2 separate regions of the Homo sapiens genome follow, and region 2 is linked to region 1. Evidence: fine-mapped expression QTL. A gene starts in region 1. The other region holds a variant in brackets. All regions are shown on one strand. Distances are from middle to middle.

Evidence for each region. PIP is the estimated chance that this variant, and not a neighbour inherited with it, causes the effect.
Region 2: its variant is the best candidate, but not a certain one, in a credible set for the expression of ZNF391 in esophagus muscle (GTEx, PIP 0.62).

The regions. Positions count from the first base shown.
Region 1 is chr6:27,385,664-27,391,044 of GRCh38, forward strand. It overlaps ZNF391 (zinc finger protein 391), which reads left to right and starts at 3,096. Exons shown (of 3, transcript NM_001076781.3): 1 at 3,096-3,412.
Region 2 is chr6:27,366,162-27,371,542 of GRCh38, forward strand. It overlaps the pseudogene ZNF204P. Among named protein-coding and RNA genes, the nearest start is that of ZNF391, 20 kb to the right of the region's middle. RefSeq lists enhancers at 1,358-1,858, 1,859-2,359. The variant T/C (reference allele first, on the strand shown) is at 2,549.

The DNA of each region.
Region 1 (5,381 bases):
GAGATGCATCTACTATCACAGAAATCTCAAAAATTCTTTATCAGAAATGGGCAGATCCAGGAAGCAGAAAATCAGTAAGGATATAGTTGAAATCAACAACATCATCAATCAACTAGATATAATGGCCATCTATAGACTTCATCCAAGAACAGCAGAATACTCTTTCTTCTCAAACTCACATGGAACATTAATCAATATAGACCATGTTCTGGGCTGTAAAACATAACTTAACAAATTTAAAAGAATAGAAATCATACAATGATTTATCTCAGATGACATTAGAGTTAACTAGAAATCAATAACAGAAAGATCATTGGAAAATCTCCCACATACTTGGAGATTAAGCAATACACTTCTAAATAATACATGGGTCAAAGAAGAAATGCCAAGAGCAATTAAAAGATACTTCAAACTACATGAAAATGAAAACACAACTTATCAAAATTTATAGAATGCTGTGAAAGCAGTGCTTAGGGGGAATTTATGGCAATGAATATATACATATTAGAAATAGCATAAAAATACCTAGGAATAAATTTAACCAAGGAAGTGAAAGACCTGTATGCTGAATACTGCAATTGCTTAAAGAAATTAAAGAAGACCTAAATAATTGGAAAGACATCCCATGTTCATGGGTTGGAAGACTAACTACTGATAAGATGATAATACAATTTGATATACAGATTCAATGTATTCCTTATAAAAATTTCAACATTTGTTTGCAGAAATAGAAAATCCCATCCTAAAATTCACATGGAAAATCAAATTACCCTGAATAACCAATGAAAACCTTGGAGAAAAGAATAAAGTTTAAAGACACATACTTCATAATTTCAAAACTTTACACAAGCCTACAGTAACCTAAAGAGTGTGGTGCTGGAATAAGAATAGGAATATAGACCAATAAAATAGAAAAGAGAGCCCAGAAATAAACCTCACATATACGGTTGATTGATTGATTTTCAACAAGTGCCAAGACCATTCAATGGGAAATGGACAGTATTTTCAACAAATGGTGCTGGGAAAACTGGATATCCAAATGCAAAATAATAAAGTTGTAGTATTTACACCATCTACAAAAATTAACCCAAAATGGATCAAGGACCTAAATTTAAGAAGCAAAACTATAAAACTCTTAGCAGAAAACATAAAAATCTTTATTAGACAATGTAATTTTCAAGTATTGCACAGGTGATAAAAATAAATAAATGGAGCTTCATCAAAATTAAAAAGTTTTATGCATCAAAGGACACTATCAAAAGAGAGAAAAACTTCACAGACTGGGAGAAAATATTTGCAAATCATATCTGAAGAAGAATATCTGGAATATACAAAAACTCATGCAACACAACAAAACCTAATTCAAAAATAGGCAAAGGATTTGAACAGACATTTCTCCAAAGAAGACACACAAATAAGTACATGACAAGATGCTCAACATCACTAGCCATTAGGGAAATGCAAATTAAAGCCACAATGAGATAAAGCTTATACCCATTATGATGGTTATAATACTACAACTACAACAAAACAGAAGTTAACAAGTGTTAGCAAAGATGTGGAGAACTAGAACCCTCCTGCACTGCTGATGGGAATGTAAAACGATGCAGCCATTATGGAAAACAGTTTGATGGTTCCTCTAGAAAGCTGATTGCAGAGTTACCATATGATATAGCAATTCAATGCCTAGGTGTATACCCAAAGAATTGAAAACAGTGACTCAGATACTTGTACACCAATGTTCACAGCAGCATTATTCACAATGGCCAAAAGGCAGGAACCACCCAAGTGTTCAACAAGAGATTAATGGATAAACAAAATATTATGTATGTATATTTATACACTGTTTGTGTATAAACACACACATATACACGAAGGAATATTATTTAGCCATTAAAAGGCATGAAGGATACATGCTGCAGTATGAATGAACCTTGAAAACTTTATGCTAATTAAAAATAATCCAGACATAAATAGACAAATATTGTATTATTTTACTTATATGGCATATCTAGAACAGGCAAATTCATAGAAACATAGTGTAAAATAAAGGTTACCAGGGACTGTGGGGAGCAGGGAATAGAGACTGCTCAATGGGCATCTTTAGGGATGACGAAAATGTTCTAGAATTAGATAGTGACGGTGCTGTTGTGAATACGCTAAAAACTTTACTGTATGACTTTAAAATGGTAACTTTAATGTTGTGCATAGTTTACCACAGTTTGAAAGTGTTTTTAATTTTTAAAAATAGGAAATGATAAAATTAGACTTTATCTAATTCTTTCCAGCTTTATAATTTGGATCCTGCTCCTTTGTACTTCATGGCTCATGCTTTATACTTACTTGATGTTTCTATGGTACTTGTGCACAGCTGTCATGTATCAGACCTGCAGTTTTGCACATGCTTTCCACTCTTCTAGTTCCTCAACTATTTGTAAGGTTGCCCTCCTTTATGTTTTCCATTAAATCTTCCATTAGTCAAACCACTCCAGTGTCCCTCGTTCCATAAGTTTCCCCTGCTCTGAACTCCCAGGGCACATTGTGCAACTTCATTACCTTATATTAAAATTATCTGGAATTTTAAAAAATCTACTAGATTAGGGTAGTGTCCTGATTTTATTCATTTTTTTCTTTTGGTGAAATTTGAGACATGTCTTGCATTTAACAGTATTTAAGCAACTAGATTGTGCAACGGAGCCAGTTTCTCCAGACAGGCTGGAGAGACCACTTGCATCAGAATCATCTGGGGTGCCCCTTGAAAATGCAATGTTCCGGGCCAACGAGTCAATCTCGGAGTGTAAATCTTGTGAAGCTGTATTTTAACAAGCTCACTTGGTGATTTATTTGTGTACGCTATTTAAAACTCTGTGAACCACCGGTCTAGGCTATACTTTGCAGTGTATTAAGGTGGTCTTCGGCACCTCTCGCAGACCCCCTTCCTCTTGCCTCTAGCGCCAACCTCTCAGCCTCTCGCATACCAGGGGAGGGGCTTTGCAAAACCTTCCACGAAAGTGAATCCCAGCACAGCCCTGCTGTAGCTGGCTCTCAGGCGCAAGCGCAGAGCTGCGACCGCTGCTGATACGTTGCTCAGTCTCAGTGTGGTCTCTGTTTTGCAACTGGTCGTCCGCGTCAGGAGACTTAGGTCCAGGCGACTGCCCAGACAATGACTGGTCCCGCATACCGAGCAGAGCATGATCAGCAGCAGTCTGAGTGGAAGAGTGCCTGTGATCTTAGGGAACCTGATGGGCGTTGGAGCAGCGGTTCGACGCATGGGTTTCTCTTTAATCCTTCCGACTTCCCCAAGCCCAGCGCACTCAGGTTCCGCTCCAAGTGCGGGACCCGCCCGGGGTGTGTCGGGGGTACTCGGCCGGAGGCGGCCGGTGAGTGAGGCTTACAGGGCCCCGGGACCAAGGTGGGTGCTCTTAGAGGTTCTGGAAAGCGGAAACACGGGTTCTTCGAAGGAAACGGGCGAAAGGGTCGCGTGTGGTTTGGCTGCAGGTCGGGTCAGGAGGCACCTCCACGGTTGGGACGCCGCGTGGCGTGGGGTCATGAAGCCCCCAGCGCTCGTCTCACTGGCGGGCCAGCCTAGTCCCTCTGCGGCAGTGACAGCCAGTGGTTTTCCCCGGGTGTATCCCTGGGAGATGAAAAAGAGCAGGGTTGCTCCCTGCTTCCCCTCTAGCTGGGCGAGGGAGGTCTTCGGTACTGGGGTGTTTCCCAGGTGCTTACTGAGTGCAGGCACTGCTCCAAGAGTTTTTACCTGCATTAACTCATTTAATCCTTGCATCAACCCTATGAAGTAATGTACTATTATTATGCCCATGTTACAGATAAGGAAATTGAGGCACACAGAGATGAAGTACTTGCTTGGCCGGGCGCAGTGGCTCACGCCTGTAATCCCAGCACTTTGGGAGGCCAAGGCGGGCGGATCACCTGAGGTCGAGACCAGCCTGGCCAATACGGTGAAACCCGTTCTCTACTAAAAATACAAAAATTAGGTGGGAGTGGTGGCGCGCGCCTGTAATCCCTGCTACTCGGGAGGCTGAGGCAGGAGAATCACTTGTACCCGGGAGGCAGAGGTTGGAGCGAGCAGAGACCACGCCACTGCACTCCAGCGTAGGCAACAAGAGTGAAACTCCGCGCCCCTCCCCCCCAAAAAAGAGAAGTACTTGCTTGAGTGCCAGTCCTTAGTTTATGTTTCTGATGATGAAGGTTGGTACTTGAATAAAGTAGTTGTTAATTATTTGTTGTGGGTGTATTGACAGTTACTGTGGATCATTGAGTTTGTGCTTTATGTGTGAGTTTGTGCTTTGAGCCAATATCTGGGAACATTGTTACCTGAAGATCACCTTTGGTAGGACAAGATTTTCTCTATTCTGTGATTAAACTGAGGCTGCCCAGGCAGTTCTGCTGATTGCTTTGTGGATTGGCAAAGGCTCCAGGAAGCAATCAACCTAGTGCCACAAAACAAAGCACCCAGAGAAGCCCTATTCCTGACCCTTCAAAACCTTCTTCCTTCTGAAGGGGGTAGAAAATAAAGGAGAATTATCCCTGGATCAGGAATTGATTATAGGAGAGACAAGCAATGTCAAAAGAATTTTAGATAATTAGGGTAACTGTGGTGGCCAGCGCTGTTAGTGCTAAAAAGTTTGAGTCACATAAAGGAATAGCAAACCACCAGGTTGGCTAGGGCTGCAGCATGTTGTGACCACTTAAGAGAATAATGATTTTGTAGGGATACAGTATCCAGAGAGCAGTAAGGTGACTCAAATAATGAAAGTATGAGGAAGAAAGGAGAAAAGGAGAGGCAACTTTCCACATTATGGTGGAGGAATCCCTTGGATGGACTCTGGATAAAGGTATAGCCCTAACCTCCTAGCATCTCTGAAATATGTTTGGGGGCTATCCCTGAAACTTTTGTCACATCCGCTAGACTTCCTTTTCCCATCTTACATACATCCTCCAAAGCCAGGAAAAAGAATGCATCTCTCCATGCTCTAGAGCAGCAGCTGCTGAAGGGAGACTCATAAATCCTCTGACAGCATCTTTCCTTAAACATACACCATCACAGTTTTCAAATTCATTGATGTGAGATGAGCACAGCAATAGCATCATCTCCCTTATACTATATATGATATTCTTTATTGTAAATGTTTTGCCATAGTTTAACTTGCAGTATTGATGAAAGTTTTGTAAGAAAAGACAAGCACATGCTAGTAATGGTGTTTTATAATGTGGGACGAGATTTTTCAGAAAAGTGACTTGACCAAGGAAGTGCAGCTGTAAGCAGTGTCATCTGTCTTCTATTTTGACCCTCAGGAAGAAGTAAGGGGACTAGTGCCATAGTGTCTTTGAACTCATACCCCATATGAAGAGAACGTCAA
Region 2 (5,381 bases), 20 kb before region 1:
AATGATAAGGACATGAATTAAAGATAAAGTGAGTAAATATAGAAAGAAGTGATAGATTTGAAATATATTTTGGAAATAAATTTGACAAGGTTTGATGGCAACCTGGATACACAGATGAAGGGAAAGGGACTATAAAGATGGATTTCTGGACTCTGGCTAGAGTGGCTAAATGGATGGAGTGCCACTGTGAATTTTGTTTGATTAATGCAGAAATAATTAAGAAAGTTCTGGATGAAGGGAAATCACACCAGATAGAAATTCTGATTCCCAAAAAGAAATAAAGAAATAAAGAGCATTTAGAAATCATTGGGCAAATTAAAATTTGTTTTTAAAAGTTTGCTTTTATCTTTATTTTTTTTTCCTCTTTTTCTTTTTTGAGACAGGTTTTTCTCTGTCATCTTGGCTGGAGTGCAGTGGCACAATCTCGGCTCACTGCAACCTCTGACCCTGGGTTCAAGTGATCCTCCCACCTCAGCCACCCAAGTAGCTGGGACCACGGGCATGCACCAACAGGCCTAGGTATTTTTTTTTAAGTTTTAGTAGAGACAGGGTTTAACCATGTTGGCTAGGCTGGTCTTGAACTCCTGAGCTCAAGCGATGCACCTGTCTTGGTCTCCCAAAGTCCTGGGATTGCAGACATGAGCCACCACGCCTGGCTGCTTTTGTCTTTATTTCTTTATAATATATATAACTATTTAAAATATATACATAACATTTTCTTGAACAACTTATAACATATGTAGATGTAACACACAGAACAACAAGCAGAACAAAAAGAACGAGGTGTCATAATTGAACACATATAGTTGCAAGGCTTCCACTTTTTGTGAAGTGACACATTAAATCTAAGAAGATTGTGAAGAAGTAACGATATATATTGTAATCCCTAGAGCAGCTACTAAAAACGTAGTTTAAAAGTCTGTAAGAAAATTTAAGATTTTTAAGAGAAAACCTTAAAATTCAGCCATATGAAGATTAAAATTAATATAGCAAATTAAGTTTTCCACAGAAGTGTTAGGGACTGCCAAGATTATCGAGGAGGCATTTTGAGGTTGGAGAGCATAAACTTTTAATTGTTTTAAATCATTCAACATTTATTCAACACAAGTTTAATGAGTACTATATGCTAAATACTCTAGGCACGGTGATATAACAGTGAAAGAGACTAAAAAACAAAACAAAACAAAAAGAAAAAAACTCTGCCTACATAGAGCATACTCCATAGTAAGAAAGACAAACAATACACTCGCTACATAAATACATTGTATATTATTTATTGGTCTGTTCTTGCATTGCTACAAAGAACTACCTAAGACCAGGTTAATTTATAAAGAAAATAAATTTAATTGACTCACCATTCCACAGGCTGTACAGGAAGCACACCTGGGGAGGCCTCAGGAAACTTACAATCATGGTGGAAGGTGAAGGGGAAGCAGGCATGCCTTACATGGCTGGAGAAGGAGGAAGAGAGAGAGAGAGGGCAGGTGCCACCCACTTTTAAACAACCAGATCTTGTGAGAACTCACTCACTATCAAAAGAACAGCAAGGTGGATATCTGCCCCTATGATCTATCACCTCCTACCAGGCCCCTCCTCCAACACTGGGGATTATAATTCAACATGAAAGTTGGTGGGGCGGGAACCCCACTCTTCCAGGAACAGCTGCAGCTGCCCAGCTGTGGCTGTGAACCTGGGCATCCCTGTGCTCTTGCGGGCCCTGGAAGCCCTGTCCTCCACAGGCTCCAAAGTGCCTGCTCCCACTGCTTGGCATCTCCCTGGTCCTGGCATCCACTCTGATTTTACAGCAAAGTTGAGGCTGAGCCTGGGTGCAGTCACGACCTGACCAGGTGTGCTCAGGGCAGCGCTGACATGCCAGCCCCTGCCACCTTTCCCCCCTCCAGACTTTGGGCACTGAAGAGCATGGGAAGGAGGCTGGAGCCGGGTTGAGGGTGGCTCAGTGTGGGCCTTCAGGCCCAGCACAAACAGCCTGGGCACCATGGAGGACATAATTGATGGTGACAGGAGGCATACAGGCTCCTGGGTGGAAAGGGGTGGGTCCCCTTTGAAGCCCCACCCTCCAGCCAGGGATGGCCTAACACATGGGGGCTGGGCTGTCAGTTCTGGCTGCAATCCACAGCCTGGCCTTAAGTGAGAACTTCTGGTGCTTCTTCCAGCCACCCGTGGCCACCGTGGACCAATCAGCACGCACTTCCTCCCTTCTGAGCTCATAAAAACCTCAGACTCAGTCAGATTCAAACAGACATGGGGAGGACCTAACTGCGGAAACGAGCTACCCACTGCAGGTCTCCTCTCTGCTGACAGCTGGACACTCATGGATACAACCTGTCTGTGGAAAGAAGCCACCCACTTTGGGTCTCCTGAGAGCTGTTCTGTCACTCAATGAAGCTCCTCTCCACCTTGCTCACCCTCCAGTTGTCCACATACCTCATTCTTCCTGGACATGGACCAAGCATGGGCCAAAAACTTGGGACCTGCCAAATGGAAGGACTGAAAAAGCTTTAACACAAACAGGGTTGAAACACGCCTC[T/C]CCATCTGCCACATTGCAGGCAATGAAAAGAAGAGCTGTAGCCCTTAAGTGAGCCTAGATCTAGAGACTCCCTGAGCCAGCACTATGACACCCTCTTTGGGGCTCTGTGGCTCCTGGCATCTCCAAGCTTCCAGAAGCCATTGCTTTCCCCTTGTCCAGACATGGGTGCCCACAGTGGAAGTACTTCCATTGCATGCGGTATATCTGTTCCAGCTGCAGCCTTGTGCAGAGCTGCTTGCACCACCACAGCAGCCAGCATGCTTGGTTGTGCTCACTGGCCAGACCCCATGCTCACTTGCCCACACACCCCTTGCTGTGTGGCTCACCCTTGGCAGATGTGGGATCTGAGACAGTAGTGTGAGTTGAGCACAGCCTGCCAGGCTGAGTGGGTGGAACGAGCCCAGTGGTAAAACCAATACTCAATTACTCAGGCAGAAGGAGCTGCCGGCCATAGAGGCTTCTGGCTGGCGAAGCAATAACCCAAGGATCCTATGACATTTTCAACTTGTCTTATTACCTTAACATAATCTATTTACAATGCTAACTCACCCCAATTAGTATCCCACCTATGTCCCCTCCACAGCACACTGGTGTCTCTTCCAAAGCACCTTATTCCTCTTAGATATTCTAGGTTCTCTTAACTGGAGTTACTTTTAATTCCTTTCTCTTTCATCCCCTAAATCTAAACCAAACCATTACTGTTCCTTACCAAAACAAGCTGTGTCATGGCATTTTTTTTCCCAAAGTTTCTAATAATTCACAATCAGCTCTACAACAAAGTCAAACCCTTAGTCCTACTTAGCACAGCAAATTTCACCCTTAAAATTTTCAATATATGGCTACTACCCATTGCCCATAGAAGACACGGTCTCTTCTACCTCTAAGTTTTGTCTTATATTTTCTTCCCTTAAAATCCCTCAGTTCTCCTTTGACAAAATTGCAACCATATCTCAGTGCACACCAAAATTCCACCCCTTCATAAAATCCTCCAAATCACACTCTCCTTCTCTGAACTCCTATGGGATGTTTTCTCTTTACTACTTAAAATGGATGTGTGTGTTTCCTTGAATTCTTCCTTAACTCCTTGGTTAGACAAGGCTGCTGAAGAACTGAATACCACAGACAATGCCTAATTGAGAGCCTACCTGCTATGCTAGTTATCAAATGCTAGTTACTAAATGCTATGCTAGTTACCAGAAACAAACAAACAAACAAACAACAAAAACAAAAACACTATGGGAAGGCAGGTGGCAATAGACAACCAATCTTATAAAATTCATGATCAAAGAGAATAGGCCTTGGTTCCTAGAAAATAAAATATCTGGAATTCAAGTGACTGAATTGAAGTTTTTTTGGGCCCCAAACCACCAGAATGAAAGTAGAAAATATAAGATATTTCAGGAAATGAAAAGAAAATCCAGCTCACCCTGAATCCAGCCATAAAGGGCCTAGCAGTCATTCTCTCTTCTTCTGGGCTCTTCTCTTGAAGAAGGGCAGAGTCTTGAGACAGTGGCTCTGAGGGAAGAGAGAGGAGCTACGAAGAAGTCAGCTTGTGTCTATAGCAACCACTTGATATTCTAGAACTACACTCTCCAATATGGTAGCCATTCCCCACATGTAGCTATTTAAATTAAAATTAAATAAAAGACTTAATTCTTCAATTGCAATAGTCACATTTCAGTGCTCAATAGCTAATGTGGTTAGTGGCTACTGTACCGAGCAATGTATACATCAAAAATATCCACAAAAGTTATATTGCATAGCACTGGTCTAGAAATCCACATATGTGGTATGTTTTTGAAGTCATACCAACTGAATCTTCAGCTCCAGGAAGTAAAGGCAACCAAACATTCCTTGCCACCTCATGACCACAGAAACGCCACAGGCATTGCATTCTCAATAGTTTGAATGTTTGCCTTCCCAAACCTCTTGTTGAAATTCAATTCCCAATGTTGGAGGTGGGCCTAATGGGAAGCTTTGGATCACGGCGGTGAATCCCTCATGAATGGCTTGGTATTGTCCCCCATAGTAAGGTTCTCACTCTATTAGTTCCTGCAAGAGCTGATTTATTCATTTATTTATTTACTTTGGTTGAGGTGGAGTCTCACTCTGTCGCCAGGTTGGAGTGCATTAGCACAATCTTGGCTCACTGCACCCTCCGCCTCCCGGGATAAAGCGATTCTCCTGCCTCAGCCTCCTGAGTAGCTGGGACTACAGGCACCCGCCACCACTCTCGGCTAATTTTTGTATTTTTAGTAGAGATGGGTTCCACCATGTTGGCCAGGATGGTCTCAATCTCTTGACCTCGTGATCCATCCGCCTCGGCCTCCCAAAGTGCTGGGATTACAGGTGTGAGCTACCGCTCCAGGCTAAAGCCGGTTGTTAAAAAGAGCCTGGTCCCCCTCTCCATTCTCGCTTTCTTCTTCTCTTGCCATGTAATCTCTGCACGTGCCAGCTCTCTTTCACCTTCCACCATGAATGGAAGCAACTTGAAGCCGTCACCAGAAGTAGATGCTGGAGCCATTCTTTTTATATAATCTACAGAACTATGAGCCAAATAAGCCTCTTTTCTTTTTAAATTAACCAGCTTAGGTATTCCTTTACAGCAATAGAAGCAGTCTAAGACACCATCCATGGTTTAAGTAGGTTCCAGATAACAAGAGCAGTTACCTAGACTCTATCATAGCATTTACTACCTGTTTTGAAATTATCTTTTGGAGTATCTTTTGCCATCCCCACCCCTACACACGAATCAAGATTTTCCCATCTTTATATTCCTAACAACAAAACTGTGCCTGGCATATATATGTAAGTCTTGATATGTTTGATGAAA